Linked DNA regions of Homo sapiens. The protein of the gene in region 3 purifies or fractionates together with the protein of the main gene of each other region. This does not show direct contact. Each region holds a gene or a part of one and is shown on either strand. Other genes may lie near its edges. The genes, in order: CDCA4, PPP2R1B, PPP2R2B, PABIR1, IQGAP1, ECSIT and PPME1.

Region 1 (3,500 bases), on a different chromosome or scaffold from region 3:
TTTCTATTACTTTTGGTAAATATTCGAGTTCTTTGTGTCAGCCACAAATTTAACTTTTCAGAGCTTTTCCATCCCAATCCATTGTTTAAATCACTGGCTTAAAATTGCTAAGTATATCGAGAATTAACATAAGGCTATGTCAAACTACAAAGGACACCCTGCGTTGGGGAAAAGATTAAGTCCCACGGGTTCCTCTGTGGGAAGTCAATATACCTTTTAGGTTTTTAGTTTCTCTTTCAACCTATCTCAATCCCAAGCCTGCATAGCAATGGATTAATTTAGGACCCAAACCAAATCCTCTTGAACAGCATGCATTAAGCCCAAGTTTATAGACAGAAGAACCCCTGGCTGCCTCCCCTGACTCTGGAAACCCAGCAGCACAACCCCCATAATGTGGGGCCTACAGGAGGTCAGCACGACTGAGCAGGGCAATCAGGGCAACTCACAGAAGGAACAAGAATACCAATGGGACAGGCCAAGAAGACCCACAACCACACTGGGAACCAGTTCAAGAAGCTGTCCCAAGCTCCTAGGACCCTCTGGGTCCCACTTTCCTTTCCTCTGAGTCCTTAGAAATGCCAGGTCCTGAGTCCAAACCCAACGACAGACCCTCCCGCCCTTTTCTGAAAGCCAGATATGGATACTAGAAGCCTCCCACTGGGGATCTTAAGAGGATGAATTCAGTGCTTGGCCTGGTGCTGTCAGCGGTCCTAAGGGCAGCACTAGCAATACGTGACCGTCAGAAATCACCCTAATAACATCTGCTCTGAGCGAGGGAATATACCAACAAACAATGGCGGAACCACATACAGAAACAGAACTCTCAGCCATTATCTGCCGCCATCAGTCGGAAACCAGCCCTTTACCTTCAGTAACGGGCCAGGAAGCCAGGTTGCCCTAGTCAGACCTGCAGGAAGCCTGGCTGCTTTCTCTAGGAACAATCCAGGAAGCTAAACAATCATTTCCATAGCAAGCAGCCCAAAATGGCCAGGACATGATTAGTAACCGACAACCTCTCCAGTTTTTGTCCCTGCTTCCAATTTAGGACCAACCAGAGAAAGCCAAACATGTTCTAGGCCATCTCACAGGAGCCCCACTTCTTTGTTGTTGTTGTTGTGTCGCCCAGGCTGGAGTGCAGTGGCGCAATCTCAGCTCACCGCAACCTCCGCCTCCCAGGTTCAAGGGATTCTCCTGCCTCAGCCTCCCGAGTAGCTGGGATTACAAGGGTGTACCACCAGGCCTGGCTAATTTTTATATTTTCAGTAGAGACTTACCATGTTGGTCAGGCTGGTCTCAAAACTCCTGACCTCGGGTGATCCACTCACCTTGGCCTCCCAAAGTGCTGGGACTACAGGCGTCAGCCACCGTGCCAGGCCAGGAGCCCCACTTCTAACTGGCCACCCCAGTCCCCCAAGTCAGCAGCCTCCATCAGCCATCCCTGAGCTTCCCTGGATTCCACTGTAAAGCTCTCCTGTTCCCTCACCTGCCTATGAGTTTCTGCCAATCACGAGAGAGGAGGGCCGCACCCTTGCTAGGGGAAGCTCTGGATAAACAGCCTCTGCCTGTTCTCACCTGGTTGCTTATTTCCACAGCTCACCATAGACAATCTGGAAGAGCATCAAAAACCATAAAACGAATTTTCTCCCAGGATCCCATCCACTCAGAAAAACACAGTCACCACCTGGGTTCCTCCTTTCCAGTCGTTTCTCCCAGCACTTTCCTCTCTGCACAAGGGAGGGAAGTTTCACACTACTGACAATTTTCCCAATCACAAATGATACCAGTTTCTAACTTTAGGTGTTTTGGTATTTCTAGCATTTGGCTTCCTTAGCCTCGGCTCTTTACTTACTAGGGTGATGTGCAGGTACATTTTTAAGAGGCTTGATAAACATTATTAAACTGCATCCTAAGAAGGTGGAACGCTCCACCAACTTTCTCCCGCACTATTTCTGCACACTTGCTGGTAAAGCTTCCTCTTGTTTTGCCAAGTCTCTAAGCCCCACAGCTAAGCGTTCCTTCCCTCCTCCACTGAGCTCCACGTCTGTGTTCCTACCCTGTTCCACGGCTGCTCTCCTGCCAGGACCAGACACCCTGGCCTCCCTGTGTAGGTCCTTTTCTGGCCATGCCACCCTTCAGCTCTGGGTCAGCCCAACAATGTGGCATAAATGGGATCCCACAGCAAGCACCCTTCTGAGGTTGGCTTTTCTCCTTCAGCATAATTCTCTTGAGATCCTTGCAAACTCTTGTGTGTCAACAGTTCCCAACAGAGTAGGATCTGGAGGCACAGACGGAGCAGAGTGTCACCACACCCCAGCTGAAGGGAACTTTTTCCTTGTTTCCAGTTTGGAGTTATTACACATAAAGCTGCTATGGACATTCTAGAACATGTTTTTGCATGAACATTGGTTTTTCATTTCTCTTGGATAAATGCCAAAGAAATAATCGTTTTATAAAATTTAGGAGTGTTAAATGCACAGGCAATGAGATCTATCACACCGAAAAGAAATTCAGAGAACAGGGGGAACCTTTTTTCTGTCTATTCAAGGACAGGACCAGCAGGTGTGAGCCTCCAGAGAGGCTCCTGGGGAGGTGGGGGGCGGTCCTTGGCCTAGTTTCATCACTCTCAGTTGTAAGCATTCTTTTTTTTTTTAGATGGAGTCTCACTGTCGCCCAGGCTGGAGTGCAGTGGTGCAATCTCGGCTCACTGCAACCTCCACCTCCTAGGTTCAAGCGATTCTCCTGCCTCATCTTCCCTCAACTTCCCGAGTAGCTGGGATTATAGGCGTGCACCACCACGCCCAGCTAGTTTTTTGTATTTTTAATAGAGCCGGGGTTTCGCCATGTTGGCCAGGCTGGTCTCGAACTCCTGACATCAAGTGATTTGCCCACCTCGGCCTCCCAAAGTGCTAGGATTACAGGAGTGAGCCATCACACCCAGCCACAAGCATTCTTTTAGGACTTAAACAGCCCGGGCACAGTGGCTCATGCCTGTAATCCCAGCACTTTGGGAGGCTGAGGCAGGCGGATCACCAGGTCAGGAGATTGAGACCATCCTGGCCAACACGATGAAACCCCATCTCTACTAAAAATACAAAAGATTAGTCAGGTGTGGTGGCACGTGCCTGTAGTCCCAGCTACTCGGGAGGCTGAGGCAGGAGAATTGCTTGAACCTGGAAGGCGGAGGTTGCAGTGAGCAGAGATTGCACCACTGCACTACAGCCTGAACAACAGAGCGAGACTCCGTCTCAAAAAAAAAACACACACACACAAAAAAAACACTTAAAACAAGTTGAATGTATACGATCTGGTGTATTCTGACAAAGGAATGCAACTCAGCAACATACCTCAATGATTTATGCAACACGGATAAATTTCAAAACATTATGCTGAATAAAAGCAGCAAGACACACACAAAAATATGTACCGTAGGATTCTATTGATCTGAACCTTCAGGACAGGCAAAGCTAATCTAAGTTGTGAAAACACAGAAGGGTAGCCAC
Region 2 (3,500 bases), on a different chromosome or scaffold from region 3:
TGAAATGCAAAAGCAAAAAAGCTCCTGTGATTAAGTACAAAACAATTTCAGAGCTGTTATTTCATTGGTTCATGGAACTCTTGCAGTCCCCACTTCAGCATGCTGCTGCAGTGAAATAAACAAGGGTTTCTCCTGCTCCCAAACTGAAAGAGAAAATCCGAAAAGAGGAAGGAGTAATCAAGTTGCATAGAGAAGACAATCTTACAGAGAAAGGGTGCCAGGAATTTAATTCTTTGTGGAATATTAGAACTTTAAAAATTCCTCAAAATAAAACACCATCTTAATCTAAAATGCCAACTTTTAAAGAAAGCATAGAATGACTTGAGGCCAACCCAAATGCCCATCAATGACAGACTGGATAAAGAAAATGTGGCACATATACACCACGGAATACTATGCGGCCATAAAAAAGGAATGAGTTCATGTCCTTTGCAGGGACATGGATGAAGCTAGAAGCCATCATTCTCAGCAAATTAACGCGGGAACAGAAAACCAAACAGTACATGTTCTCACTAATAAGTGGGAGTTGAACAATCAGAACACATGAATACAGGGAAGGGAACATCACACACTGAGGCCTATCAGGGGGTGAGGGGCGAGGGGAGGGAGAGCATTAGAACAAATACCTAATGCATGTGGGGCTTAAAACCTAGACGACAGGTTGATAGATGCGGCAAACCACCATGGCACATGTATATCTATGTAACATAACAAACTTGCATGTTCTATGCATGTATCCTAGAACTTAAAGTAAAATAAAATTTAAAAAAGCACAGAATGATTTGCTAGGATGCACCATTCCCAGTAACGTCAAATATTTATCAGATATAACATAAACATTTTTTTTAAAAGTGGTATTTCTTTCCTATGATTTGCCAAATTTTAATTTTATTTAAAAAGAAATAAATAGGCCACAATAAGATAACTTTAGAGAAGAAAAAGAGAAAGAAGTCTACAATCCAGTTTGAAAACACTGGAAATACCCACATATATAAGCCCTTATACATTTTCACATATTTTTTCACATCCTTCCTCTTCACACTCTTAACCATATGATCCTCCATATGATGCAAACATGCCTTTAACAAAACCACCCACACGTATAAGCAGACACAAATATCCTCATTCCTCCCAAATTTCCAGGCATAAGCACCCATAGATGAACAAAGAGATACACTAAATACATATATCAAGTATATAAAAGATACTGTGGAACTGACTCAGGTTATCTATTATATCCACCAAAACATGGAAACAAAGCTCAAGGACAATGTCACATGACCCCATAGGGGCACTCACACTCATCGAAACAGGTCTAAGACAACACTGAAGCTGTCAAGTCTGGACCTGGGATCTGGCAGAGACGGTACATCTGTCACCCACTGCTGCCTGGCACACAAGGGGATACACACATATACCTCTACCTGAAGCCTCACCAGGAAGTCACTTGCTCATTCCTGCTGTCCTATCTGACCTGCCCTGAGCTCACCCTCTCCTAGCACTGTAGCAGCAGCAGTGAGAGTACAAGCAGTAAGCCTTCCTTTCACCCAAACCAGAAATCCAGGCCCTCTCTCTCCCTATGGCAAAGCTAGTGTTTCCCACACCTAAGAATCCTCTACTGTCTCACTGTAGATCTCCTCTTCTATGTCACCTCAAAAAGCCAAGTAGCCATTTCTCCCACCCAGGCCTTTCATCTGATTCCAATCTCCATACAACCTAGTGTATAGCTGCTGAAGACACCAATTACAGGATGGTCAAAAAGAGGATCTTCAGATAAGGGAGGAGTAAGTAGATATATAAAAGAGATGGTCTGAAGATAATGTAATAGATTGAGTAAGAAAATAATGCAAATAAATTGTTTAATGGAGAAAATAAAATCGAAGATACAAAAAATTGGTAGAAACGTCAAATTTATATTCAGAAGATTAAACTTTAATTAGAGCCTTTCTTCATTCCTACAATATTAAGGCAAAATATCTGGTCAGACTGAGATTCCTTTCTAAAAGGAAATGTATGAAAATCATGGATATATGGGCTTTCAATAATCTGTTTTTATCTACTCACCATGGTCCACGAGCCAAGCCATACATAAAGAATTCAGCTTTTCATCAAAGAATTCCACACCCTACAGATACAGAAGATTCCATTAACATACATTGCCAAAATTCAGAAATAAAGATGGTCTATTTACATTACACCAAGGTTACCTGAAGGCTAAAAAAACTTGTTTCCAAATAAACAAATAAGAGATAGAAACACCACAGGAATTACAAACAAACCATAAATCTATTTATTGGACGGAAATCATAAACAAAAAAAAAGCATACGTGAGCTGGCATAGGCCCTGCTAGGTAAAAGAGAACAGGGTGGCCAGAAGTCAGCCACAACACTGCAAAAGAGCAGGAAGAATGCACTGTGTATGGTCTGCCAAGCAAATCTGGATTACCTGTAAAAATGAATTACCCAGGAAAACACCTGTCAGTAATATTACTAATTCTCAATCGTCTTCCCTTTTTGGTTACTATTATGACAAATCCTTAAGGATAAAGCAACTGACCTCAAGACATAGAGATATCCCCAGTTAAAGAGAGTATTTTCGAGACAACAGGAGAAAGCCCTGGAGGGAGAATAAAGCAGGCCCAGGACTACAGGGCATATGGCCCAGGCATGGCTTGCTCTCCCAGCCCTGTTCCTCCCGACTGTCAACAGGTGGCCACTTCAGTGCAGGCTGGGGATGGGCTCCGGGAGCAGATTTACACAGTCCTCTAACCCCGGGGCTTCCACACCACATGGAGAATGCTGTGACACACTTTCCTAGTGCCTCCCTTCTGGGGTCTACACATTTACAGTCTTGCTTCTTTGAACTCTAAGAAGTTCCTGACTGGTGATTCTATATTTTAAAAAAAGAGAGGTAATATAATGTGTCAGTGCTTTGAAAATAGTGATTGAATAAGACAAAATAGCTTTTTTTTTTTGAGATGGAGTCTCACTCTATTGCCCAGGCTGGAGTACAGTGGCACAATCTCAGCTCACTGCAACCTCCACCTCCCGGGTTCAAGTGATTCTCCTGCCTCAGCCTCTCAAGTAGCTGGGATTACAGATATGCAGCACATGCCCAGCTAATTTTGTATTTTTAGTAGAGACAGGGTTTCACCATGTTGGCCAGGCTGGTCTCTTAACTCCTGACTCAGATGATCCGTCCGCCTCAGCCTCCCAAAGTGCTGGGATTACAGGCATGAGCCACCGCACCTGGCCCAAAATTGCTTTGTACTAAAAGATCATAATGAACAAATTTTGGCATACACTTAGATTACGTCAGCCAAGATTTCTTTTTCATTTCAGGTTGAGAATTTTCCTTCAGTTTTAATTAACTTTTATTTTCCAGTTTGTTGTTGTTGTTGTTGTTGTTGTCGAGACGGAATCTCTCTCTGTCGCCCAGGCTGGAGTACAGTGGTGCAATGTCAGCTCACTACAACCTCCGCCTCCTGGGTTCAAGCAAT
Region 3 (3,500 bases):
GGAGCTGCAAATGAAAGAGGCCCGAGTTTCTGAATTACTGATTGGAGGAGGCTGCCTGCTGATGGGGATCATCAATATTAGACTTCATACGAAAATAATCTTTTATTTGTTTGAGCCATTATGGGGTCTATTCTATAAACGAACCTTCAGAGCTTTACTATAACTCTTAAAATTAAATTTCCAGGTTAGATTTTATGAACTGTCTACTGGATAGCGCTACTTTGATGACCTACTATTATTTCGAACTTGACAGGTTCAATAATTTTCTGTATGTCAGAGTGTTCCACGTACTGGAATACAGCAATAGTTCATACAAGGCCCTTGCTCTTGTAGAATTTACATCCTAACATGAGGAAACCAAAAATACATAAGTAAAAAAATTTCAAATCATGGTAAGTACCATGACAATAACAGGGATAGTGTTATTGGTAGCTACTTAAGAGTTAATGGGAAAGAGTACCTCTGGGGCCTGAAGTGACATGTAACTAGCCATGTGAATGCTGTGGGCAAAATATTCTAGAAAGAGGGAACAGCAAATGCAAAGAATGGAAGAATAAGGTTTACTTAGGAACAGAAAAGTGATTAGTTGGCTGAAATGAAGTGAATTAGGGAAGCGTGACAAGACTGGATAACAAAGATGGAGACAGGTTCCAGATCACGCAGAATCTTATAGGCCAAGTTAAATAACTTGGATTTTATTCTGAGTTTAGTGGGAAGCTACTGGAATGTTTTTTATCAGGGAAGGAATGATATTTGAATTACATGTTGAAGGGTTCGTACTGTATAAAAGAGCAAGAATGAATGGAGACCAGATGAGATTATTGCAGTCACAGTGGTGAGAGACAACAGTGGCTTATGCTAGTGTAGGTAGGTAGATAGGGATATATGCGTTGATTTGACATATATTTTAGAGGCAGGGCTCATGGATAGATGGAGTTAGAGTAGGGGAGGCTGGTAAGTGGAAGAGAAAACTCCATATTGATACCTAGGTCAATTGTTCAGTTACCTGAGTTGTTCAGTGCCATTCCTCATAAATCTCATGCCTTAGGTTTGTGAGAAATGGAGCACATGATAGGTATTCAATAAATGACCAATTTTTACTATGAAATAGAGGGTCAACATAGTGGGGGTGAAAATACTGGCCCAGCTATTCAGCATTTTTTTTTTTTACCTTTCTATATATTTTTTATTTTTATTATTTTTTTGAGATGGAGTCTGGCTCTGTCACCCAGACTGGAGTGCAGTGGTACGATCTCGGCTTACTGCAACCTCTGCCTCCTCAGTTCAAGCGATTCTCCTGCCTCAGCCTCCCAAGTAACTGGGACTACAGGCGCCCGCCACCATGCCTGGCTAATTTCTTTTTTGTATTTTTAGTAAAGTTGGGGCCTTGCCACGTTGGCTAAGCTGGTCTTAAACCTCTGACCTGAAGCAATCCACCTACCTAGGCCTCCCAAAGTGCTGGGATTATAAGCATAAGCCACTGCGGCCAGCCGACTTTTCTATATTTTAATTAAACAGGAGATAATGATACTTACATTATGGGGTTGTTTTATCAAATATGTCCTTGGGGGTAGAAATTATTAATATAAAGAGGCATGATGGGGGCTTGAGAATTGTTAGCAAAGTTCTGTTTCTGGATGTCAATGCTGGTTATAGGTGAGTTCAACCTCTGAAATTTCATCAAACTGTATAATTATAATATGTATACTGTACATTTTATCAAACTGTACAATTATAATATGTATACTATACATTTCATCAAACTGTACAATTATAATATGTACTTTTCTATATGCATAATATACTTCAATGAGGTAAAAAATGTAATACTATAAAGTTCCCATTGCAAGTGCTTGGAACTCAATAAATGTCAGTCACTATTATTTTCACTATTATGAGACAATGGAAACCAGTATGTCTGTGGTCCATGCTGTCCATACAGATTTATGAATCCTTTAACAGAGAAAGAACCTGAACTCTAGGGTCTTATCCTATTGTTGATAAAATCACCTCTAATTTTAATTCGTGACATATAAATGCCTCTGTATGAAGGAATTGATTCAGAGTCCCAATCCAGAGCTAGCCCTGGCCTCCCACTTGTAATAACAATATTTCCCTAACTTTATTGTTATGATTAAAGAGTCTCATAGGTGCCAGTGTATTTTAAAAGGGGCAAGTTCTCCGCAAATGCTAGGTGTTGCATTTCTATTCCATATTTTCTCCCAGCCCACTCGCACCTGAATACTCTTAATTCAGGCCAGTTGATTCTTGATCACAAAGAAAGGATACTAAAACTTTGATTGGTTATTTCAAAGTTCCATAGGTTAATCCTCAGGTCATCAGCGGACATGTAGGTTTCATAGTCGCTGTTGACAGATATGGAGTTGATGTGATATGTGTGTGCGTTGGCAAATACTCTTCGTGGGGTGGCCTCCACCATCAGGTCCATGGGTCTCAGGACAGGCACCTGGGATGCAAGAGAAACAAATCACTTCAGAACCAAAGATCTTCCATAGGAAAAGAGTGTGCATGCTAATATCATTTATTATCACACACAAAATAATAGCCACATTGAAGAAACTCCAAGTTAGAGAAAGAAGAGGCTAATAACGAATCACACACTGTTCTTGTTCCATTCTGTTCCTCCTCTTTCAAAAGATATCACCATCACTTAGCCCTGGTGGGAAATTTCATTCTTTATAAATTCTAAACATTTTTCTAAGCCCCTCCAGGTAGCCTCATCTCAGGGGAACTTGGCTTCCATTGTGGAGTCATTACCTTCCAGAGACATTGTTCTATTTTTTTTTTAAACATGAAATCTATTTAAAAAAGGGAGTTGTGGGAAAATTTTAGAAATGTCTAGTTCAACTTTAATCTAAATTTATCTTTTATGTCTTTTCATCTCATGGCTTTGGAAGCTATACCCCTTCCTGGCTTTGTCCTTAATCCTTAAGGGCATTTTGGGAAACTTTAGCATCACCCAAGACTCTAATCGTCCAAATTCAGCCACTAATATATAGGGAACCCAATGACATCTGACTGAGAAAATCTTGGTTTATATTTGTCTTAGAGTGCGAACCAGGTAGTGTCCACTTTTACATGCAAAACTGTCCCAGTTTGAACATTAATGATATGGTCACCTTACTGATACATAAATACTTCTCAGTAAGTATTTGTTGAATGAGTAAGAATACATGATTAAATGATTTCTTTCTGGTGGATCAGAGAATCGGCAACTAAATAGTTTCCCACACATGACCGTCTTTCTGGCAAATGTGAACAAAGACCTATCACTCTTCCTCCTTTGAGTTCTGGGTGAACTGGCTACAAAGAAAGAGAATAAGAACACTAATGCCTGAGAGGGAACAAACTAAAAAAACACCCAAGACAGACAAAACCCCACAACACAGGTGTGGTCACTTAATAGAAACAAGATAATAAAATAACCAAAGCTATTTTCTTTTCAAGCAAATCATTTCTTGCAACTGAGCCCCGACTGA
Region 4 (3,038 bases), on a different chromosome or scaffold from region 3:
GTCATTAGAGAAGGATCAGTATTTCTGATTTCTAGAAGGGGGCTATCACCTATAAAAAGAAGAATAAGGCTTGTTTTGCATTTGCCAAAGGTGGACTTGAATTGAATGGTGGAAGTTAGAGGGAAATGTCTGTTCACTATAAGAAAGGCTAACATCAGAAACAATCGCTTCATAAAAGGATAGCCTGCTTTGAAGGATATTGTACTGTTAACTGAGTGTGAAAGCAGGAGTTTCATCCATCAAGGATGCTAATTGCCCAGCATCTTTGTAAGCACATTGTGTACGAACCCATTCAATCCTCACCACAGCCACCCTGCTCCACTGTCTATATTCCTAACCACCACAATTCGCTGCCTACCTCCCAGCTCTGGAATCCTGGGCAAGTAACTCAACCTGTGTCTCCATTTCCTCATTTATAAAATGAGGATAATGATAGCACTTGCCTCAGATGATAGTGATAGATTAAATGCATTGATATATTTGCTTAGCACTTAGAACAGTCCCTGACACATAGCAAGTATTTTATTACTTTTTATACAAAGGTCATTTCAACTTTTAAGAAAATTTTTTTACTTGGATGGCAAGTTACAGAAGCCACAAAGAACTCTGTCTTGGCTACAGTGAGCAATCTGACACAATTTTTTACCAAGTAAGTGGCACTCAAGGCTTGCCTTCAGCCCTGATTCTCTAACAGCCATGAAAAATGTGGGCAAAACTGCTGGAGTGAGAGACCTACATTGAGACCAGATTCTCTATACTTTGTCATGGCTGATAAGGTAAAGCCCTGAAAAAAGTGGTCTAGTCCATAAGCCTCTGCTCCCTTCTCTTATCCTCAATGCCTCAGCCAATCATTCAAACTACACTTTCAGCAGAACCCTTAACTACTTCACACACTGGGCTTTACCTAGTACCCACTTAACCAATTCCCAAACCTAGTCAATCCAACCCACTTCCTTGTGCCTGCCATCCAACTGCAACCTGGCATCCATCATAGCCTAATAAGCCTTCTACTTGTCCTTAACTTACTCCTTTAGATTCTCAGAGGCAACATTAAACCTTTACTGCACTCAAGCTTCCAAATGATCTCCTGTCCCTATCCTCATGTATCTTAGATTCCTCAATAATTGGAAAATAGGCACAATCAGAAACAAATTCTACTTTTCATATACCTACCTCCATACTCCTAAACCCCTGCAACAACAAATCAATTCAACATTTATGGATATCTTTGCCTAGCCTTTTCACTCTCCCTCCTGTTTCAGAAGAAAAATAAGTTTCCAGACCTCCTTTCCAAGGCCAACTCTTTCTTCTGTTCTCTGGTGCTACTCAAGAAATGATCATCATCTTCTTGGTTCAATTGTCTGGCAACCATTCCCCTGACTCCCACCTCTGTTAGATCTTCAAAATTGTTCTACTAATCTATAAACACACCCTGAAAAAAAATGTTCTCAGACTCACTTTCCTCATTTAAGTCTTGATTCCTTCCCCAATTTTATTGCCAAATAAACTGGTCTCTTGCTACAGGTATGTAACTGGTTGAACTAATAAATGTGAATCACTGGAAGGCAATCTGATACAAGTTATTCTTGATTACAATCAATCTTTTAAGTATGCTTAAGGGTCCTAACATCCAGCAGCCTTGGAGTTAATGATCTTTAATGATTTCTCCCATTTATACTGTGTTTTTAACAAGCATAATAAAGGAAAATATACCAGAGGTTTATTAAGTATGACAAACTGTACTTTAAATAAATGTTGCTATTGACTTTAGGACTTCTTGCACAAAGTTTATAGATTAGCAATACTAATACCTTAAAAATGCTTTTTGAAGGATAATTCTTACACGAGCTAAGTAAGCCCTTACAGTCTACAGAATAATGATGGACGTTATGAACAATACTATGATAACGTAAATTGTCCACATGCCCTTAGAACCTTATCTGATTTAAAAACTTCCCATCTATATAGAAGAATAAGCTTACAGAAATAATGTTTCCATACCTTCGGGGAAAAGGATCTAAAATAGGAGAGAACATGATGTATTTAAGGAAAAGAAAGGCAAGCCAGTGAGGGCGAAGCACAGAAAACGAGGGGGGAGGAGGGAAGGACCAAATTCCTCAGGGCCTCCTAGCCCAGAATTAATACATTTTGGCATACTCATGAGAACAGGAAGCAAATGAAAAGCGTTCAGCTGGGAGATGGAAGGATCAGGTCCGCAATTTTAAAAGAATGACTCTAGTTGCTGTATGGAGAATGAATGGATAGCCGACCAGAGTGAGTGTGAGGAGCACAAGTGGGAGTTAGGAAGTTGCTTCAGAAGCCTAAGAGGGAAATGCTGGTAGCCTGGATCAGAGTGGCAATAGAGGTAGAAATAAGGAGATAGATTCTAGCTGATAAAAATCAGTAAGACTTGAGGAATGATTAGATATGGGGAAAAGTAAAGAAGAGAGGTGTCAATGACATGTTGGTTTCCTGCATTTATATACATATATACATGGAAATGCCAGTAACACATCTTGTACAATAGATATCAAGTTGTTAACAGAAGTTATCTGTGGAAAGGGAAGATGAATTTTACATAATTAAAAGCAGACTTTTAAAACCACACAGATATGTACAATGTTTAAATATTTTACAATCAGCAGGTATACATTGCCTTCATACTTAAACTCACGTGCAATTTGCCTCCCTGAAAAGGATAGGAATTATCCCAAAGAACAGACACAAGAAAAGTACATGACATATTTAAAGAATATCAAGTGGTCTAATGTTTGCAGAATAAGAAGGAAAGATGTATACTGGAACAGAGATGAGGAGAGGATTGAAGCTATTTCAGAATATGGCCAGATCATAAAGGTCCTTCTATCTGAGGCTAAAGAAATCATTCCTTAAAGAGTAGGAAATGGGGAAGCAAGTGAAGTTTTCAAGCAAGAGGGCGAAAAATATCAAGTTTAAATTTCAGAAAGATTACTCAAGAGGCAGTATAAAGACTGAACCAAAAGGAGACAGAAGACAGGCTGGGAGATCACTCAGGCAAG
Region 5 (3,500 bases), on a different chromosome or scaffold from region 3:
CAGGGTCCATTTAAGTCCTACACCCTCCAGCTTAGAGTGTTCAGACATAAACACTCTGCACCTAGCTCTTAGTAAGGCTGGGTTCATCTTAGCTTTAGGGCCTCAGCTAAATGAAATTTTATCTTCCGGGATAGGCTTTCCCTAACCACCTTATGTTAGCTCCCTCTTATAAAGTCTCCATTAAAGAACCGTACATAAAACTTCATAAAACTTTCTTCAATGTTTAATTATGCTTTTATTTTTATGTACCTGGTTGGTGTCTCTTCCACCCAATGAACTATGAAGAGAGGGCAGGAAGCATGTCTGTTTCACTCATTATTGCATTACTGTACACATCTCTAACACAATGCCTGGCACATAGTTAATACTCAATAAATATTTGCTAAATAAGTGAATTTATTACTAGGTCAACAACTTAGAAAGCACAGTTTTCTAAAGAAAAACTATTTGAGGCTGGGTGTGGTGGCTCACAGCTGTAATCACAGCACTTTGGGAGGCCGAGGCAGATGGATTGCCTGAGGTCAGGAGTTCGAGACCAGTCTGGCCAACATGGTGAAACCCAGTCTTACTAAAAATACAAAAATCAGACAGGTGTGGTAGCGTGCAACTGTAATCCCAGCTACTCGGGAGGCTGGGGCATGAGAATTGCTTAGACCTGGGAGGTGGAGGCTGCAGTGAGCTGAGATTATGCCACTGTACTCCAGCCTGGACGACAAGAGTGAAACTCTGTCTAAAAAAAGAAAAGAAAAGAAAAACTATTTGAACTAATATTAGTTTATAAATAAAGAGAGGGGAAAAAAGAGGGAAAGACTATAACAACATGAAAGAAAAGTGTCATTATGGTTAACATACCTTGCCTCTCCTGTCTGAGACTCCATCTGATTAACCCAAGATTTGTAAATATCCACAGGGTCAGTTTTGATGTTGAGAGATTTGTCATCCATAATTTCCTTCACGACTGGGGCCAAGATCTGTCTCAGGGCATTCTGGCCACGGGCACCACGGTTGAAACTTACAACCATTTTAATAACCGTAGGATTTCCTGTCACAATCTCTTGAATCTGATCTACCTTCGACCTATAAAACATCAGATAAAAATTTAAACTTGTCACAAAACCCATCAACTTAAAAGATCCTTCCTGCTTAAAGATCCTATCTCCCTGAAACAGTTTCTCTCGAAACATTCCCCAGCACTCACAGAATGTTCCTGCAGCTGCACGCTCAATCGTGGTCATGATTGGGTCCGCTACTAGATAAAAATGTGAATTCTTTCTGTTCAGATTACTTTTTGAAATTATACCTTAATACAGAATGTTCCTAAAGTTAATTTATCCCTTCCCTAGAAGCAGCAAGATTTTATATCAGTTATTTAAAAATTAGATGCTTCTTTAGAGTAAGTATTTTTCATAAATTAATTGAGATCAAGAAAAGATCAGGAAGGCATGAATCTCAAACTGGGAGCCCCTCTGATAGTGGGAAGGGGCCTGTGCCCTGAGGAAATCTGTTCATACTTGATTTCCTCTTGGAGTGCTGTCTTAAAGAGCCGCAGGAGCAGGTACTCCTCTCGCTGGTTGGACGCGTAGTTGTAGAGTGTGAAGATTACAGAGTCCATGAACTTGGTGGACTTGTTCTGGGGCATCTGAAAAATGAGCTTGGCCAGATAGGTGGGATTGGTCTGAAATAAAACCAAGGGATAAGTCATTTGTAGGTAATATAAAGGCTGGCAAGATATATTCAATTATTTAAAATTGAAGGACTACAATACATATGAGAAAAAAGATTAATAAATTAACATGTTACAGTGCCCCTCACTCACCCCTCAGTGGAAGTCAAAAATACTTCCAGAGAGATCGATGGTAAGGCTTTCTTGTGGAAAAATAAATTCACTAAATTTTTATAACACTGATTCCAGGAGCCACTTACTTGCAATAAATAAAACAGGTGCTGGTAAGCTTCCAACTTCTCTCTCTTCTCCTTGCTCAAAGCCTTGAGACCTCCCTTCTGTTTATTTATCATCATCATATCAGACAACTGTTCCTTATTTTTTTTGGTAAGTTTTTTACTGTGGGAAACCACATCCTATAAACAAAAACCAATAAATAGATCAGAAAGCTTTCAAAGATGAACCTCTGGGCATTGAGGAAAGGTTTTGCAGCATGTGCAAACTCACATGAAGGTGTACTGCACTGGCAGATTCCCACTGAATATTTAAAAACCACTACACTTTATCCTGTTTTCAGTACACCAGTCAAATCCATTCCTATGTTCCAACAAAGAATCTGAGCCATAAGAATGTCCACTGAATTGGCAAACCAACTTCCAGCAGTCTATTATAAAAATAAGTCTTAAATACAATAAAAGCTACATATATATTGAAACATTAATTGCAATGTTATTTATAATAAACGCTTGGAAAACAACCTAAATGTCAAATACTAGGGGAAAAAGAGGTAAATCATAGTATATCTTCTAAAAATCTAATATGCTACTGTTAAAAATAATATTTATGGCTGGGTGCAGCGGCTCACACCTGTAATCCCAGCACTTTGGGAGGCTGAGGCAGGAGGATCACCTGAGCCCAGGAGTTTTGAGACCAGCCTGGGCAATACAAAGATACCCTATCTCTTATAAAAATATAATTTGCCAGACGTGGTGGCATGCACCTGTCGTCCTAGCTACTTGAGAGGCTGAAGTGGGAGAATCACTTGAGCCTAGGAGGTCGAGGTTGCAGTGAGTCATGATCATGCCACTGCACTCCAGCCTGGGGTACAGAGGGAAACTCTGTTTCAAAAAATAAAATTAAAAAAAAATTATGACTACTTATCATAGGGAAAGAGTCTTATCCTTTAATATGAAGTAAGAATGTAAGATACAAAATGACTGGGGTAGGTGAAATTAGGGGAAGACATTTATCTTCTTTTCTCTATCAAAATTTTGTCAATTAAGTTGTTTTATGTCTTAAATAATTTTTTTTTTTTTTTTTTTTTTGGAGATAGAGTTTCACTCTGTCACCCAGTCCGGAGTGCAGTCATGCAATCTTGGCTCACTGCAACCTCTGCCTCCCAGGTTCAAGCGATTCTTCCACCTCAGCCTCCTGAGTAGCTGAAATTACAGGCATGTACTACCATGTCCAGCTAATTTTTTTTAATTTTTAGTAGAGACAGGGTTTCACCATGTTGGCCTGGCTGGTCTCAAACTCCTGGCTTCAAGTGATCCGCCCTTCTCGGCCTCCCAAAGTGCTGGGATTATAGGTGTGAGCCATCATGCCTGACCTGTCTTACATAACTTTTTTAAAAGCTTATGATGGCCGGGCATGGTGGCTCATGTTTGTAATCCCAGCACTTTGGGAAGCCAAGGTGAGTGGATCAATCACTTGAGGCCAGGAGTTCCAGACCAGCCTGGCCAACATGGTGAAACCCCCGTCTCTACTAAAAATGCAAAAAAGCCGGGTGTCGTGGCTCACGCCTGTAATCCCAGCACTTTGGGAGGCTGAGGCGGGT
Region 6 (3,353 bases), on a different chromosome or scaffold from region 3:
GGCCTCAGGTGATCCGCCTGCCTTGGCCTCCCAAAGCACTAGGATTATGGGCATGAACCTAACTTTGGGTGGTTGTAAAATATGTAGCACAGTCCCTGGCAAATAATAAGTGCTCAGTGCTTGTGAATTAAAAAAAGAAAAATAACTTCACATATACAGAATATCCCAGGAAGGAGACACTAGAAGCAAATGATAGCTTTCACCTCTGTGGAGGACAGGGTGGGAAGGAATACCTTTTTTATCTTTTAAAATTTTATACCTTGAACATAATTCAAAAACACTAGACAATTTTTTTTTTTTTTTTTTGGGACAGAGTTTCGCTCTTGTTGCCTAGGCTGGAGTGCAATGGGGCTTGATCTCAGCTCACCGCAACCTCCACCTCCTGGGTTCAAGTGATTCTGCTGCCTCAGCCTCCCGAGTAGCTGGGATTACAGGCATGCACCACCACGTCTGGCTAATGTCTGTATTTTTAGTAGAGACAGGGTTTCTCCATGTTGGTCAGGCTGGTCTCAAACTCCCAACCTCAGGTGATCCACCTGCCTCAGCCTCCCAAAGCATTGGGATTACAGGCATAAGCCACTGCGCCCCGCTGACAAAGTTTTTTTTTTTTTAACAAAATGCACTTGCTTTTGAAACAAAACAGTGGACAGCTATTAGAACATATATCATTCATCCTTTCAAGTTAAAAAAAATTGAGATGAGCAGGCCGGGCGCAGTGGCTCATGCCTGTAATCCCAGCACTTTGGGAGGCCGAGGGTGGTGGATCACTTGAGGCCAGGAGTTCAAGACCAGCCTGGCCAACATGGTGAAACCCCGTCTCTACTAGAAATACAAAAATTAGCCAGGCGTGGTGGCACACGCCTGTAGTCCCTGCTACATGGGAGGCTGAGGCACAAGAATTGCTTGAACCTGGGAGGAGGAGGTTGTAGTGAGCCGAGATTGTGCCACTGCACTCCAGCATGGGCGACAGAGCAAGGCTCTGTCTCAAAAAAACAACAAAAAAATTTGAGATGGATCAGTGACTTCTAGTTGTATTAAATGAAATTTGTAAAAGGCAAGGTACATGTATATAATGCCCTGCTACTAAAGAAACTTTTTTTTTTTTGAGATGGAGTTTCGCTCTTGTTGCCCAGGCTGGAGTGCAATGGCGCGATCTCGGCTCACTGCAACCTCCACCTCCTGGGTTCAAGTGATTCTCCTGCCTCACCCTCGCAAGTAGCTAGGATTACAGGCATGCACCACCATGCCTGGATAATTCTTTTTGTATTTTTAGTAGAGACGAGGTTTCTCCATGTTGGTCAGGCTGGTCTCGAACTCCCAACCTCTGGTGATCTGCCTGCCTCGGCCTTCCAAAGTGCTGGGATTACAGGCGTAAGCCACCATGCCTGGCTAAAGAACTTCTTTTTTTTAAACAGACAGGATCTTGCTCTGTCACCCAGTCTGGTGTGCAGTGGTATGATCACGGCTCACTACAGACTTGACTTCCTGAGTTCAAGCCACCCTCCTGCCTCAGCCTCCTGAGTAGCTGGGGCTACAGGTGTGCACCACCACTCCCAGCTAATTTTCGTATTTTTTTGGTAGAGATGGGGTCTTGCCATGTTGCCCAGGCTGGTCTCGAACTCCTGGGCTCAAGCAATCCATCTGCCTCAGCCTCCCAAAGTGCTGGGATTACAGGCATGAGCCACTGTGCCTGGCTGTATTTTACTCCATAAGACGGGGGAGAAGGATATTTAAATACAAAGGATACAGATGCCAAAAAAAAAAAGAGAGAGAGAGAGAGAGATCTGCTTGCAAATGTATAGAACCTCTCTGGAAGGAGACATGGAAATAGTCACCTCTGGGGAGGGAGACGGGCGGCGTCAGGGGCAGCGCACGGGGCCTGGGTAGAAGCAGAGGACTCGTCACTGTGTGCTTTTACATGCTGTTTGGCTTTTTAGTGCATTGCTTTGCAAAATGAAGAAATGAACTAAAAACAACCCTCCCCCCCACATTCTGCTGCTGGTCTCAAGCCATCTCTCACCTGGACCCACGACCCTGGTCCCCTAGCCCCTCTCCCCATCCAACAGCATCCACACGGCTGCCAGGAGACACGTTTCCAATTGCAGATTCTTCCAGAAACATGATTCCAACCCGATTCCTTCTTCTTAAATCTCTGCCCCCCCACCCCCGGCATAGCTCTCCCCACCAACCAAGAGGTTTGAGATCAAGCTCTTTAATCAGGTGCCCCCACTCACTGCACCGCATTTCCTGGTACACACTGCTCCCTCTGCCCAGCGTCCTCTGCTCTCCTTACCTCCCCCAGGAAGCCCCACCTGCCCACTCGGCTCCCACAGCACCCCGGGCTTCTCCATCTCAGAACCACTGGCTCTTAAGGAAACTGTTATCTGTCCAGGACCACATGACAAGTGCTGTGAGGGGCTCTCTTTGGATCCCTTGTGTGATCTGGCATGAGTGGGGGCTCCCAGGACACTGAGTTGAGGGTGTTACTCCACTCAGTCATTCAACAAACCACTGCCAAGTGTCAGCTTTGCACCAAATCCTGTGCTCAGCCTTGGGAGACAGGAGGGAGACTGAGTCATGGTGAATGAGGAACCAAGCCAAGCACGGTGAAGGGGTGGTGCCTTGGCCAGGGAGGTCAGGAAGGGCATCCTGATTAGGAACAGTGGAGCTGAGACCGGAATAACATGAAGTCCATGGGGAACAGTGTTCCTGGCAGAAGGAACAGAGAACGCAAAGCCCTGTGGTGAGAATTGGCACAGAAAATAAGGAAGATGCCTAGAATGTAGCAAGTGTTGGGAGAAGGATGGGAGGGTGCTATGGTCTGAATGTTTATGGCCCCCTGAAATTCATATGTTGCAATCTATCTACAATGCAATAGGATTAAGAGGTCAGGCCTTTGAGAGGAGAGGCACTTAGATCATAAGGGCTCTGCCTTCATGAATGAGATTAGTCCCCTTATAAAAAAGGTCTTGGCCGGGCACAGTGGCTCACGCGTGTAATCCCAGCACTTTGGGAGGCCGAGGTGGGCAGATCATGAGGTCAGGAGATCAAGACCAGCCTGGCCAACATGGTAAAACCCCGTTTCTACTAAAAATACAAAAATTAGCTGGGCCTGGTGGTGCATGCCTGTAATCCCAGCTACTTGGGAGGCTGAGGCAGGAGAATCGCTTGAACCCGGGAGTCAGAGTTGCAGTGAGCTGAGATGGCGCCACAGCACTCCAGCCTGGCGACAGAGCGAGACTCCATCTCAAAAAAAAAACAAACAAACAAAGGTCTGAGGGGGCCAGGCATGGTGGCTCATGCTTGCAATCCCAGTACTTTGGGAGGCTAAGGTGGGTGGATCGCTTGAGCTC
Region 7 (3,500 bases), on a different chromosome or scaffold from region 3:
GTGCAGTGGCATGATCATAGCTCACTATAACCTTGAACTTCTGGGCTCAAATGATCCTCCCACCTCAGCCTCCTGAGTAGCTGGGACTATAGGCACATGCTACCACACCCAGCTAATTAAAAAAATATATATATTTTTTGTAGAGACAGGGTCTCGCTATGTTGCCCAGGCTGGTCTCAAACTCCTGGCCTCAAGTAATATTCCTATCTCAGCCTCCCAAAGCACTGGGATTACAGGTGTGAACCACCACACCTGGCCTAAAGCCCAGGTTCTTAATGACTATACCCCTGCTGCCTCTCATTAGGAAACCTATGAGAGCAAAAGCAGTAAATCATTGGCCTTATATTTCAACATAAAAAAAAATCTAGAATAGCCAAAATGGCCATCAGTCATAAACTTGATTCAGATATCCAGCAGAATAAAAAACAAAATTACCAAATACCTCATAGTATAATAATTTTCAGGTTCAGAAAGATCAATGACTCTCATGAAACCCAGAACATCTTAACATTTAACAAACAGAACCCTTATTCTATCCTGTATCTGGCAAAAGAAACAAGACTACTTTAAGAGAAGGCCTACCATGATACCCAGGCTGCATTAGGTATATCCCCTGGCTTCCTTCATTGTGTTATGTTTATGTGTTTCCTTGTTTGCATCCCCAGTTTTTTGATGATAGGAACTGAGCCTGATTCATCCCCCAGTTCTTAGATCAGGTACTGACACATCTTAGGCACTAGAAAAAAAAATTTACTGAATAAATTTTTAGAGTTCGGAAAAAGGGCCAGGCGTAGTGGCTCATACCCATTTATCCCATGACTCTGAGAGGCCGAGGCGGGCAGGCAGACTGCTTGAGCTCAGGAGTTCAAGACCAGTCGAGCCAACATGATAAAACCCTGTCTCTACAAAAAAAAAAAAAAAAAAAAAATCAAATAACAAAAATTAGCTGGGCATCGTGGTGCACAGCTGTAGTCCCAGCTACTTGGGTGGCTGAGGCAGGAGGATCGCTTGAGCCCAGAAGGTCAAGGCTGCGGTGAGAGCTGTAATCATGCCACTGGACTCCACAGCCTGGGCAACAGAGTGACACCCTGTCTCAAAAAAAAAAAAAAAAAAAGTTTGGATAAAAGTTGGATGGGCTTTAGACAACTGAGCCAAGTCTAGAATAACTTTCTCACTTGTTGTTACTGCGGAAGCAGGCAGGGCACCTGAGATACAAGCCAAGCTGGCAGCAGCTACATTCTTGATGCTATCTGCCCAAGATAGATCTTTGATATTTCTGTGAGAACAGGAATCCTGCATCACAGTAGTGAACAGGAAGTGGTAGAAACTTCACCAACACAAACATCATTCTGACAAGCCATATTCTTGCATAAGACCATTTGTCCTAGGAAAACGCCTAGGATATATTTACCAAGTCCTAAATTTCCACTTGATATCTGATTCAGTTAACAGATATATTCTGCCTGCTAGGGCAGTATGCCATATGCTATATGAAAGTAGAAAAGAAATACAGAATAGCTTCTTCCCTTATGATGCAGGAAGGGCATTAAGACAGACATTAATGAAAATTAACAATATGAGCCATATCCCTCAAGGGAGTATTGGAAAACTTAAGGGTATACAGTGCAATATAATAGAGACTTAAAGGTCTCTTGTAATTTTGCTGAAAGCGTCATCTGGGTGGTTTGGAGAACTTAAGAGAAAATGTTCTGAAGAAGAGACTGGAGATGGAGTTAGAAGAATAGGAAGGAAGATAGGATGATGAAGACATTTATCCAAAGACTGATCTCCTTGTGGGAAGGGACAGTGTTTTATTCATCTCTGAATCTTCACTCATTAGCACAAAATAAGTGTTTAATAAATACTTTATCAAATGATTAACTGAATTAATGAATAAATTCATTCCTTTGCTTAAATGGAATTCTGTCACTGATTTTTATAAAAACTATTTACCCATTGAGTTTATTTACCCAAAATCCAAATAAATTTGAGGGAATGGAACCTATAGCCATCTTCCATTTCTCCACCATTTTATCTGAAACACAGAAAGTAAATCTAAAACCATGAAGCATCAGAGGTGGATGATGCCTTAGAAACCACCTAGTCTAACCTCTTACCTCAGAGGCAGAAACAGCTAGACAGCAGATGATCAATAATTACTAAGATTCCAGGAGGTACTATAGTGTATTGGGAAAACAATGGGTTTCAGACAACTGAGCCAAATCTAAAATATTTTTAAATGTTCAAAAAATTCTGCTGTTTATATAATGTTTCCTCATATGCTATTACAATAAGGCGTGGCAACTGAAATTCTATTCCTTGAACTTGGTGCTTGACCTAAAAAAGAAGAAAAGCTACAATCTAACATTTAGAATAAAGGCAACAGTGGCTGGGCACTGTGGCTCACGCCACAACCCCAACACTTTGGGAGGCTAAAGTGGGAGGATTACTTGAGGCCAGGAATTTGATTACTTGATTACTTGAGGCCAGGCTAAAGCAGGAGGATTACTTGAAGCCAGCCTGGGCAACATAGCAAGACCTCGTTTCTACAAAAAATTTAAAAATTAGCCAGGCTTGGTGGTGTGTACCTGTAGTCTTAGCAACTTGGGAGGCTGAGGTGGGAGGATTGCTTGAACCTAGGAGTTCAAGGTTGCAGTGAGCTAGGATCATGCCACTGCACTCCAGCCTGGGTGACAGAGTGAGGCCTTGTCTCCTAAATAAATAAATAAGCAAGCAAACAAACAAACAAATTAATTAAATAAAGGCGACAAAGATTTGTTGGTTACCTCCATTCAATAGCATTCTCCAGAGACTTGAAGGTTTTAGGACGACCCCGTAAGAAATTCTGCATGCTATTAAGTGCATCCATAGCTGTACCTGGATGTTAAACAAAAACTGTAACCACATATTTAACTTATTCTGAGCATTTACACTTACTGAGTCAACTACTATATATCTGCTCTTGATGACAGCAGAATTTAGTGATGCTCGCAGAGAAATAAAGATGGCCCTCAATAATTTTTGCCTCTGGGGTATTCACTTCTTTATGTCATGCCCTCACACTGAAGAGGATGACTTGTATTCACAAGCAGCAGTGTGACTTCTGAAGCTGGGTCAGAAAAGACATGGCAGCTTCTTTTTATATGATTAAATACAATTATGGGACATACATAGGATTGAAATATTATGCAGCCATAAAAAGATGTTAATGAAGAGTTTTTGATGACATGGAAAAATGGTTATCTTGTATAAACTTAAAAAAGATATAAAGACAGAGGGACATATTTCAAGATGAATGAAATCAACAATAAACTAAGACAAGGTAATAATCTACCAAGGATGTCTCTTATAAGTGAAATCCTGATTTGGTCAGTGCTAAGAAAACTCACCTTCTACAACATCAATCATGCACAGACCCAAGAGGCTTGGTACCAGGTTGGATGATGCTGTGTGGACTGCAATAGCACCACCCATGCTATGTCCAATCAGCATAATTGGAG

The links.
Region 1: the proteins of PPP2R2B (region 3) and CDCA4 purify together in Homo sapiens (affinity purification with mass spectrometry; 4 studies listed by BioGRID and IntAct, with this or other methods). This does not show direct contact.
Region 2: the proteins of PPP2R2B (region 3) and PPP2R1B purify together in Homo sapiens (affinity purification with mass spectrometry; 4 studies listed by BioGRID and IntAct, with this or other methods). This does not show direct contact.
Region 4: the proteins of PPP2R2B (region 3) and PABIR1 purify together in Homo sapiens (affinity purification with mass spectrometry; 4 studies listed by BioGRID and IntAct, with this or other methods). This does not show direct contact.
Region 5: the proteins of PPP2R2B (region 3) and IQGAP1 purify together in Homo sapiens (co-immunoprecipitation; 3 studies listed by BioGRID and IntAct, with this or other methods). This does not show direct contact.
Region 6: the proteins of PPP2R2B (region 3) and ECSIT purify together in Homo sapiens (affinity purification with mass spectrometry; 3 studies listed by BioGRID and IntAct, with this or other methods). This does not show direct contact.
Region 7: the proteins of PPP2R2B (region 3) and PPME1 purify together in Homo sapiens (affinity purification with mass spectrometry; 3 studies listed by BioGRID and IntAct, with this or other methods). This does not show direct contact.

What each region holds. Positions count from the first base shown.
Region 1 is NC_000014.9:105,014,584-105,018,083, forward strand, and holds part of CDCA4 (cell division cycle-associated protein 4), read right to left. Parts: intron 1-3,500. UniProt on the Homo sapiens protein: May participate in the regulation of cell proliferation through the E2F/RB pathway. May be involved in molecular regulation of hematopoietic stem cells and progenitor cell lineage commitment and differentiation.
Region 2 is NC_000011.10:111,745,890-111,749,389, forward strand, and holds part of PPP2R1B (serine/threonine-protein phosphatase 2A 65 kDa regulatory subunit A beta isoform), read right to left. Parts: intron 2,126-3,500; coding exon 2,065-2,125; intron 1-2,064. UniProt on the Homo sapiens protein: The PR65 subunit of protein phosphatase 2A serves as a scaffolding molecule to coordinate the assembly of the catalytic subunit and a variable regulatory B subunit.
Region 3 is NC_000005.10:146,648,258-146,651,757, forward strand, and holds part of PPP2R2B (serine/threonine-protein phosphatase 2A 55 kDa regulatory subunit B beta isoform), read right to left. Parts: intron 2,468-3,500; coding exon 2,290-2,467; intron 1-2,289. UniProt on the Homo sapiens protein: The B regulatory subunit might modulate substrate selectivity and catalytic activity, and might also direct the localization of the catalytic enzyme to a particular subcellular compartment.
Region 4 is NC_000009.12:68,783,029-68,786,066, reverse strand, and holds the end of PABIR1 (PPP2R1A-PPP2R2A-interacting phosphatase regulator 1), read right to left. Parts: 3' UTR 501-3,038; downstream 1-500. UniProt on the Homo sapiens protein: Acts as an inhibitor of serine/threonine-protein phosphatase 2A (PP2A) activity. Inhibits PP2A activity by blocking the substrate binding site on PPP2R2A and the active site of PPP2CA.
Region 5 is NC_000015.10:90,475,242-90,478,741, reverse strand, and holds part of IQGAP1 (ras GTPase-activating-like protein IQGAP1), read right to left. Parts: intron 2,080-3,500; coding exon 1,924-2,079; intron 1,676-1,923; coding exon 1,512-1,675; intron 1,078-1,511; coding exon 853-1,077; intron 1-852. UniProt on the Homo sapiens protein: Plays a crucial role in regulating the dynamics and assembly of the actin cytoskeleton.
Region 6 is NC_000019.10:11,508,782-11,512,134, forward strand, and holds part of ECSIT (evolutionarily conserved signaling intermediate in Toll pathway, mitochondrial isoform 1 precursor), read right to left. Parts: intron 1-3,353.
Region 7 is NC_000011.10:74,230,289-74,233,788, reverse strand, and holds part of PPME1 (protein phosphatase methylesterase 1), read right to left. Parts: coding exon 3,390-3,500; intron 2,878-3,389; coding exon 2,787-2,877; intron 1-2,786. UniProt on the Homo sapiens protein: Demethylates proteins that have been reversibly carboxymethylated. Demethylates PPP2CB (in vitro) and PPP2CA. Binding to PPP2CA displaces the manganese ion and inactivates the enzyme.